Homo sapiens: one gene and its partners. Changing the gene in region 1 together with any one later gene gives a genetic interaction. Each region holds a gene or a part of one and is shown in the gene's direction. Other genes may lie near its edges.

Region 1 (2,917 bases):
ATATTTATATATTTTAAAAATAAACATTTTTTAAATCGTCAGAAGGCAACATTTACCATGTTCCTTTCAGTCTATCCAAAGTAGCAACTTAACTAGTTGCTGGCAACTGAATACCCAGAGTAGTGGAAATTTTAGGACTTGAGGACGTGAACAACTTGAAAGAGAAAATTGATTCCCCTTGAGGAAAGAATGGCTCAACGTGGATTTTTATTCATTGTGGTGCACGTTTCAAATTTTCTTGCAAATTATTTTATATCTTATTTGATGTTAAGTAATATTTTTAAAGTATGGTTTTTGAAGATAGTAGGAAATGGAGTACAGAAAGGCATACAGTATTATGTTACAGTGGAGTGCTTTCAAGAGCATTTCGTAGGATCTGTCCCCATCCGAAGAGGCTTTGTGAACTGCCTGCTGAATGGAAGGAAAGCAACTTTAAAACATTTAGAGTTTTGCTGAGTATAGCCAAATGCCTGTTCTGAAACTTATAGGAAATTGGAATTTTGTTTAAAATTTTACACTTTAAGGTAGCAAATGTCAATTATTAGACCGAGCATATTGTGAAGAATTAAACTAAAATTAATACGTACAGTTTTCTCTAATTAGGTGACTGTTCATAATGGGTATATTTGGAATTTAGAAGAAATAATTTTGTAGTAATTGTGGCCCTTATGTTTAACAGATAATTCAGCATTGGCGTATTTGCTTGTCCCAATACAAGAATGCCAAAGGAGGAAACAGGAAAAATTGCCGTCCATTTTAAAAATTTAGGTTTGTTGTTTTAAACCATAATTGTTCTCAGAACTTTTTTGGAACTTCTAATTTTGGGTCATTTAATTTAAGAATGAGAGTCATGATGTTTTGATTTATGAAGGTGAATTTAATGCAAAAGTGGGTAACACTACATTCATAGCAAAGTTTTTTATTAAATTTTATAAATTTTTAATAGCCAATTATGTCCTAATTGTATTTTGGGGAATGAACAGCAGCAAATACTGTAAATGTACAGTTTTCTTTTTTTTTTTTTTTTGGTTATGTATACAAAAGTTTTAACTACTTTTTGGTGTTTATGAAAATCATTTAGTTGACAAGGTGCCTATGCCATTGTTAAATTTTCTTTAAGTAATTTAACAACAGATTTGCTAATTTAAAAAAAAATGAAAAAAAAAATCTTACCAGCAGTTTGTAAAGGTCTGGAATCACAGTTGGCATCCTTTATTCAGGTCTCTTCTCTCCAGCGTACACTTAAAATTGGTGCCGAGCAGGGATATAACCTGCAGTTAAGTGAAAAGAAAATCCAGCCTCCCCCTCCAAAAAAAAAAAAAAAATTTAATTTTTAAAAATTAGTGGTATGGCAATAAGACACTTCAGAGGCTATCTTAACCTCTGAATACCCATCTTCTAGTTTAAAGACAGAGACATCCCATCTGGAAAATGTTAACTTGTGTTGCCATCTCGTTGCCGGAGTAAGTAGACATAAGACAGAGTTTAAGAAGTAAAAATATAGAAAAATTTTGATGGTCACAATGAGATAAATATTAGAATATTACTATTCCAATGATTAAATGAGGATCTTGAAATAAATTCTGAAGTCTTCCAATTTTTACATTTATTGGAGGGGTCCCTGAGTTCTGTCAACTTTTTTATTTAAGTCTCTTGCTCTTATTTTGTGCATAAATGTTAAACCTTCCAAAAATGAAATGTTAGCTTTCTTTCTTTTACTTTTTATTAAATTTAATAGAAAATATGACCTGAGTAGTTAAAAAGTATTTTGCATTATTTGCAGTAAGATGTCTCTAGCACTGCTCAAAGGGCAAATTTTAAAACTTCAGTCTGGGTGAAAGATTTGCTAGTTTTACAGAAAGATTTGCTATCTTAAACTCAAGCTGGTTTTTCTGTTCTCATGTAAGTGACTGGGATGCTGTCTTATGAATTCTTCCAAGGTCATGTTTGTGAAATAAACATTACATGAGAGCTTTCCTGTCATCTACACTATATGTTGTCTGGAGTGTTGAACAAATTTATTTTAGTTTCTAAGTTGTAATCTATCCTCATATGGTCTATACGATTTTGAATGTGTGCCACTACATACTGAGATGATAATGCTGTACAATTTTAAGTGGTAGCAGTTTCTGTATGCAGTAGGCTGAAATATTTTGATGAACTGCTTAATTTTTGGATTTTATTTTTTAAGTTGTATAATTTATTTTCTTGCAAAATAAAAATGTAATATAAAAGCTTTTACCTATCCAGAAAATGTTGATGTTCTACTATAAAATAGTTACAAAGAGTTTAATTAAAATTTTTATAGTAGGTATATTTTTAAATTTGAAGGTAAATTAATCTCAGCCAGCCTTAGGAATCAGAAATATGAAAAGTAACCCACTTATTTATATTAGACTTCAAATTCTAATTCAAAATGAGAGCAGTCAGGAATGTAGCTTTTCCACTGATGATAGCATGTGGCTATATGCCTGGAAGAGGTAATAAAAAAAAAAAAATTCCAACCTGAAAGTGGTTAATATATTCATCAACTAAGATAGGCTATGTCATAACAAAATTCAAATTTTATAGCAGATAAAAGTAAAAAATGGGCCGGGCTCAGTGGCTCACGCCTGTAATCCCAGCACTTTGGGAGGCCAAGGTGGGTGGATCACCTGAGGACAGGAGTTCAAGACCAGCCTGGCAAACATGGTGAAACCCTGTCTCTACTAAAAATATAAAAATTAGCCGGGTGTAGTAGCGCGCGCCTGTAGTCCCAGCTACTCGGAAGGCTAAGGCAGGAGAATCGCTTGAACCCGGGAGGCGGAGGTTGCAGTGAACCAAGATTGTGCCACTGCACTCCAGCCTGGGCGACAGAATGAGACTGTCTCAAAAAAAAAAAAAAAAAAAAAAAAAAAGTAAAAAATGTAAAACATAA
Region 2 (3,735 bases), on another chromosome or scaffold:
GCTTCAGCTCAGGAGTTCCAGACCAGCCTGGACAACATGGAAAAACCCCGTCTCTACAAAAAATACACACAAAAAAATTAGCTGGGCATGGTGGCCCATGCCTGTGGTCTTAGCTACTCAGGAGGCAGAGGCAGTAGGATTGCTTGAGCCTGGGATCTTGAGGCTGCAGTGAACTGTGATCGTGTCACAGCACTTTAGCCTGGGCAACAGAGCAAGACCTTGTCTCAGAAAAAAAAAAAAAAAAAAGAAACGGAGCTAAACATTATGTTCATGTAGGCACTATCATAAAAGATGTCAATTCTTCCCAAATTATCAGATAAATTTTAGGCAATCCCAATCAAAATTCACATCAGGGTTTTTTTTTTTTTTTGGTAAAATTTGCAAGCTGCTTCTAAATTTTTTGTGGAAGATCAAAATGTCAAGGATAACCAAGACCATTTCGACAATGAAATGTGAAATCTTTACCAGATAATACTTACTATAAAGCTGTGGATTGAAAGGGAATATGAAGAAGTGAAAATAATTTATTTATTTATTTTTTAAACAGGATCTCACTGTCCCCCAGGGTGGAGTGCAGTGGCGTGATTTCAGCTCACTGTAACCTCAGCCTCCTGGGTTCAAGCGATTCTCCTGCCTCAGCCTTCCGAGTTGCTGGGATTACAGGCGCCTGTCACCATGCCCAGCTAATTTTTGTATTTTTAGTAGAGACAGGGTTTCACCATGTTGGCCAGGATGGTCTCGAATTCCTGACCTCAGGTGGTCCACCCACCTCGGCCTCCCAGAGTGCTAGGATTACATGCGTGAGCCACCACACGTGGCCTGAAAATAATTTTTAAGGTGGTGAAAGTTTTCTTTCTTTAATCCTTGTTGTTTGTGGCCTTGCTTTTAGAAATTATGAATTATATTTGAAGTTTTTTTTTTTTTTAAATCGAAGAGGAGGGTCAGAAGTACAAAAGACTAGGCTGGGCATGGTGACTCACGCCTGTAATCCCAGCACTTTGGAGGCCGAGGCGGGCTGATTGCTTGAGATTAGGATTTCGAGACCAGTCTGGCCAACGTGGTAAAACCCTGTCTCTACTAAAAATACAAAATTAGCCAGGTATGGTTATGCACGCCTGTAATCCCAGCTACTCAGGAGGCTGAGGCAGGAGTATCTCTTGAACCTGGGAGGCGGAGGTTGCGGTGAGCTGAGATCACGCCATTGCACTCCAACCTGGGTGACAGAGTGAGACTCCATCTCAAAAAAAAAAAGTACGGAAGACTGATGAAGAGGAATTGTTACTGTTACTCAATGATTGTCCAAGAAACAGAAGGAAATACTTCTATTTTCACGTGATTGTCAAATACTCACTGTTACTAGTTTTAAAAAAAAGACTTTGTAACAATTTTTACTTGTCAATTAAAAAAATAAATGAACAAAAAAAAGGACTTGTGGATATGCCAGAGGCTCCCTCTTACTTTGTGTTGAATCTCTCCCCAAGAGGTCCTCACGCTTGTTCTTTATAGAAACTAGAATAGTACGATCGGCCCTCCGTATCCACAGGTTCCGTATCTGCAGATTCAACCAAATACTCTGAAAATATTTAGAAAACCACAACAATAAAAATAACACAGGCTGGGCACCGTAGCTCACGCCTGTAATCCCAGCACTTTGGGAGGCTGAGGTGGACGGATCATCTGAGGTCAGGAGTTCGAGACCAGCGTGGCCAATATGGTGATACCTTGTCTCTACTAAAAATAGAAAAATTAGCCAGATGTAGTGGCTCATTGCCTGTAGTGCCAGTTACTCGGGAGGCTGAGGCAGGAGAATCGCCTGAACCTGGGAGGCGGAGGTTGCGGTGAGCAGAGATTGCACCACTGTACTCCAGACTGGGCAACAGAGCAAGACTCTGTCTCAAGAAAATAAAAAATAAAAATTACAGTTTAACTATTGATATCACATCTACATTTCATGAGGTATTATAAGTAATCTAGAGAAGATTTAAAGTATAAGGGAGGATGTATGTAGGTTTTATGCAAAAATAATGCTATTTTATATAAAGGACTTGAACACCAGGGATTTTGGTATCTTTGAGGGGTCTTGGATCCAGTGCCCTGCAGAAACCAAAGAAAGACTATATCTGGAGGAAGAGTAAGAAGATGGTTGGACAGTGAAGATTTTGGAGTCAGAAAGTCCTGGGTGATATTACTCCAGCCCACATGAAAAAAAAGAAAAAGTCAGTCCTGGGTGGCAATGAACTACAGTTCTCCCATTGCTGCTTCCCAGTTGTGTCATCTTGTGCAACTGTATACAGTACTTAAAATGTCTATTATGGGTTGAATTGTGTCTCCCCATCCCCCAAATATGTTGAATTACTAATCCCCAGTGTCTCAGAATGTGACCTTATTTGGAAATAGGGTCATTGCAGATGTAATTAGTTAAGGTGAGGTTTTACTGGAATAGGATGGGCCCCAAAGCCAATATAACTTGTGATGTGAAGACAGACACACAGAAAGAATCCCATATGATGATGGAGGCAAAGGCTGGAGTTACACTGCAAGCCAAGGAAAGCCAGAGATTGCCAGCCACCACCAGAAGCTAGGAAGAGGGAAGGAGGATTTCTTTATAGCTTTCAGAGGAACGGTGGCCTGCCTTCCTGGCACCTAATTTTCTACTTGGAGCCTCCAGAACTATGGGATGATACATTTTTTTTCTAAGTCACTCTGTTTGTGATACTTTGTTAATGCAGCCCTAGGAAATGAACAGACCATCTAAAACTTGGTTTTCTTCATTATATAATGGGGATCCTGTTACTTAGGCGTGATTGAGAGTAATTACTTCAATGGTATGTGTAAGGTGATAAAAAATATGTTAACCAGTCAGGAAATGAGAACTGCTATTACTGTTATTTTTATCACCATTATAGTGACCGTTTTCCTCCATACTTTCTCTCCATGTGGTATAAATTTGTCATGTTGGAATATATGTTGTTTCCCCCATTATAGGCTGAATATAAAAAAGCTGTAACCACTAATCAGTGGCACCGAAGATTAGAGTTTCCAAGTGGAGAGACAATTGTTATGCACAATCCAAAGGTAATGATGGTGTTCAAAATTTTAAGGTATTAAGTTCATTTTAATATTTTTCTGTGTATGTTTGATAAATTGTTCATTTTTAGTAACTTCTACAGTGGGAATGTTTTTGTAACAAGTGCATTGCTTTTAAAATACTTTATTATTATAGTGGATAATACAGATATTATTTCTATGATTCACACTGATCATAGAAACAAAAACACAAATTTTTCGTAGGGCGAGGTGCACACCTGTGAGAGGCTGAGACAGGTGGAATGCTTGAGCCAGGGGGACAGCAGAACCCTGTCTCTATAAAAAATAGAAAAATTAGCTGGGTGTAGTGGCACATGCCTGTAGTCCCAGCTACTCAAGAGGCTGAGGTGGGAGGATTACTTGAGCCCGAGAGGTTGAGGCTGCAGTGAGTCAGGATTGCTCCCCGCTGCACTCTAGTAGCCTGGGTGACAGAGCAAGACCTCGTCTCAAAATAAAAAGTAAATTTTTCTCAGGCTGGGTGTGGTGGCTCACACCTGTAATCCCAGCGCTTTGGGAAGCCAAAGTGGGAAGATTGCTTTAGGCTAGGAGTTTGAGACCAGCCTGGGAAACAAAGAGACTCTGTCTCTACAAAAATTAAAAAAATTAGCTGAGCATAGTGGTGTGCACCTGTCTAGCTACTCGGGAGGC
Region 3 (3,500 bases), on another chromosome or scaffold:
CAGGTTAAGCAGCAGCATCAGAAGGGACAGAGTAACCAGGCCCAGGCACGGAGGAAGTGACCAGCCCCTCCCTGTCCCTTCGAGTCCAGGACAACAACGGGCAGAAATCGAGAGTGTGCTCTCCCCGGCAGGCCTGAGAATGAGTGGGAATCCGGGACACCTGGGCCGGGCTGTAGATCAGGTTTGCCCACTTGATTGAGAAAGATGTTCCAGTGAGGAACCCTGATCTCTCAGCCCCAAACACCCACCCAATTGGCCCAACACTGTCTGCCCCTCGGGGTGTCAGAAATTCTAGCGCAAGGCACTTTTAAACGTGGATTGTTTAAAGAAGCTCTCCAGGCCCCACCAAGAGGGTGGATCACACCTCAGTGGGAAGAAAAATAAAATTTCCTTCAGGTTTTAAAAACATGCAGAGAGGTGTTTTAATCAGCCTTAAAGGATGGTTCATTTCTTGACCTTAATGTTTTTCCAATCTTCTTCCCCCTACTTGGGTAATTGATTAAAATACCTCCATTTACGGCCTCTTTCTATATTTACACTAATTTTTTTATCTTTATTGCTACCAGAAAAAAATGCGAACGAATGCATTGCTTTGCTTACAGTATTGACTCAAGGGAAAAGAACTGTCAGTATCTGTAGATTAATTCCAATCACTCCCTAACCAATAGGTACAATACGGAATGAAGAAGAGGGGAAAATGGGGAGAAAGATGGTTAAAATACATAATAATCCACGTTTAAAAGGAGCGCACTTGTGGCTGATCTATGCCAGATCACCATCTTCAAATTGGCACAACTGAAATTTCCCCACTCTGTTGGGGCTTCCCCACCACATTCATGTCCCTCTCCCGTGTAGGTTTCACATTATGTCCAGGTGCACATAGGTGGTATTGAATGCTCAGCAGGGTAGGGGCTGACCACTGTCCCTGATTCCCATCGTTCTCAGGCGGATTTTATATTTTTTTAAAGTCTATTTTAATGATTGGATATGAGCACTGGGAAGGGGACGCTAACTCCCCTTGATAAAGTCTCGGTTCCATGGAGGACTTGAGTGGCCCCAAAGGCTGCCACGGTGCCCTCACCCCAGCCCATGTGCTCCCATAAGGGCTGGTTCCTAGAGGCAGGGGTTGTGGGGCACTCCCAGCCACGGCACTGTTACCTTGGTGGTGGGACTTGGAACCCAACCCTGAGCTCCCGATAAAGCTAAAGTCCATCATCTGGCAAATTCAGTAAATTGGAGAGTACTTGCTTCTGTTTGTATCTGAGAGGAATTTTTAACTGACGGCTTCTGTCTCCATGAATCATTATCAGCATGATGAAAGGTGTGTCTAAAAAACAATTCAGAATACCAGCAGCATTGTACAGCAAGGGGTAAATAAGCTTAATTTATTAATTTACCAGGCTTAATTAAGATCCCATGGAGTGTTTAGCCCTTGTGGGAGACAGAAGCCATCAGTTAAATGAGGTTAGGCCTCTCCTCCTAATATACTGATTGACAATGCATATTAGCCAGGTAATGCACTTTAGCTACCCTGGACAATGCTATCAAGTGTGCTGGGAAGGGAGGAAGGCCTCTCTACATATGGAAAAGCCCATGCGTGGAGTTCCCCTCCTTTCAACATTGCAACAACAGTAACAACAAGACAACCGCAACATGTGGGCGTAGTCAGGCAATGCTGTGTGCGAAGTAAACTACCTCAAGGTATGAAGTTACCTCAGCAATTATTTTCCTTTTTGTTCCCCCCAACCCCATTAAAAAAATTTTTTTTTGATTTTTGTTTTTTTGCAGCTTGCTGATATTTTATATAAAAAAGAAAAGCAAAGCAAAAGAGAAGCTGATAGTCTTGAATATTTTATTTTTTTAATGAAAAGAAAAAACAAGAAAGTTATGTTTCATAATTTCTTACAACATGAGCCAGTAACCCTTTAGGAACTCTCTATGGAGAACAGGCCTGGTGGGAAAGGCTTTGGGGGCTGCCCCCTTAGGAGGAGGCTAGTGCTAAGAGGGAAGGCCCAGGTTTGAGAGAGCCCAGAGGGGCAGAGCCCAGAGCCTTGTTTGGCCCTGATCTCTGACTTCTAGAGCCCCAGCTGCTGGCGGCTGCTGGAATATCCTACCTGATAGGATTAAAAGGCCTAGTGGAGCTGGGGGCTCTCAGTGGTTAAACAATGCCCAACAACCAACCAGCTGGCCCTTGGTCTCCTCTCTTTCCTCCTTTGGTTAAAGAGCATCTCAGCCAGCTTTTCCCACCAGTGGTGCTGTTGAGATATTTTAAAATATTGCCTCCGTTTTATCGAGGAGAGAAATAATAACTAAAAAATATACCCTTTAAAAAAACCTATATTTCTCTGTCTAAAAATATGGGAGCTGAGATTCCGTTCGTGGAAAAAAGACAAGGCCACCCTCTCGCCCTCAGAGAGGTCCACCTGGTTTGTCATTGCAATGCTTTTCATTTTTTTTTTTTGTTATTGTTTCATTTCAGTTCCGTCTTGCTATTCTTCCTAATCTATATCCATAGATCTAAGGGGCAAACAGATACTAGTTAACTGCCCCCACCTCTGTCTCCCTGTCTTCTTTAGATCGGTCTGATTGATTTTAAAAGTGGACCCAAACTTAGGGAATTCTTGATTTAGGGTGGCTGGTGGCAAGGAGGGGCAGGGGATATGGGGACGTGACTGGGACAGGTTCCTGCCTTATCATTTTCTCCCTAGGACATTCCCTTGTAGCCCCCAGAATTGTCTGGCCCAAATTGAATAGAAGCAGAAAAACATTTAGGGATAACATCAGGCCAGTAGAATTAAGCCTCTCCACCTGTCCCAACCATAAAAAGGGTCTCCCAGCTTTCCATCTCTGGCTCTATATGCTTTATCCCAAAACAAAGCAGATAACGTTCAGACGTCGGCCATTTAGTAATTTAAAGCGAATTTCCAGCAGCAAGCATGCTTTGATATCTGGTTCAGACTATCATCAGGAAGAAAAAAAAATCCCACAGTACCTGAAATGTGATTGTTGCAGTGTTCAGTTTCCTTGGGGGCCTGCTCCCTTCACACCTTGAGCCCAAGTCCTTTTCCGTTGGCTGATTCAGCTCCCAGAAGAGACGAGGAAGTGTGTGGCAAGGGACTGGAAAACTTCACTTGCTTGGATTAGGCAAGGCTCCACTCATTGTTGATATTTGCCCAGCAGGAAAATCATGTAAGTTATACCACCAGAAAGCAAAAGGAGCATGGTTTGGTGGTTAAGGTTTAGTGGGATGAAGGACCTGTCTTGGTGGGCCGGGCCCTCTTGTGCCCCGTAGGCTAGGTCTTAGGGCAACTCCTTGCCCTCCTGCTCAGCACCTCCATTTCCCCATCCTTGGTGAGATAACAAGCTATCGCGAAAAGCACTTGGGAGATTTGGATGATTTGAGAAGAGTGACTTAAAAAAAATGCTTCTGTGCTCTAAGATATATATGTGTGTGTGTGTGCTACATATATATTTTTAAGAAAGGACCATCTCTTTAGGAT

What was found.
Region 2: changes in CUL5 (region 1) and SEC23IP together harm fitness less than expected from each alone (positive genetic interaction), as found in Homo sapiens cells (one large-scale study listed by BioGRID).
Region 3: changes in CUL5 (region 1) and IGF2BP1 together harm fitness less than expected from each alone (positive genetic interaction), as found in Homo sapiens cells (one large-scale study listed by BioGRID).

Annotation. Positions count from the first base shown.
Region 1 is NC_000011.10:108,105,528-108,108,444, forward strand, and holds the end of CUL5 (cullin-5), read left to right. Parts: 3' UTR 1-679; coding exon of another isoform or gene 680-760; 3' UTR 761-2,234; downstream 2,235-2,917. UniProt on the Homo sapiens protein: Core component of multiple cullin-5-RING E3 ubiquitin-protein ligase complexes (ECS complexes, also named CRL5 complexes), which mediate the ubiquitination and subsequent proteasomal degradation of target proteins.
Region 2 is NC_000010.11:119,906,056-119,909,790, forward strand, and holds part of SEC23IP (SEC23-interacting protein), read left to right. Parts: intron 1-2,985; coding exon 2,986-3,075; intron 3,076-3,735. UniProt on the Homo sapiens protein: Plays a role in the organization of endoplasmic reticulum exit sites. Specifically binds to phosphatidylinositol 3-phosphate (PI(3)P), phosphatidylinositol 4-phosphate (PI(4)P) and phosphatidylinositol 5-phosphate (PI(5)P).
Region 3 is NC_000017.11:49,049,385-49,052,884, forward strand, and holds part of IGF2BP1 (insulin-like growth factor 2 mRNA-binding protein 1), read left to right. Parts: coding exon 1-60; 3' UTR 61-3,500. UniProt on the Homo sapiens protein: RNA-binding factor that recruits target transcripts to cytoplasmic protein-RNA complexes (mRNPs). This transcript 'caging' into mRNPs allows mRNA transport and transient storage.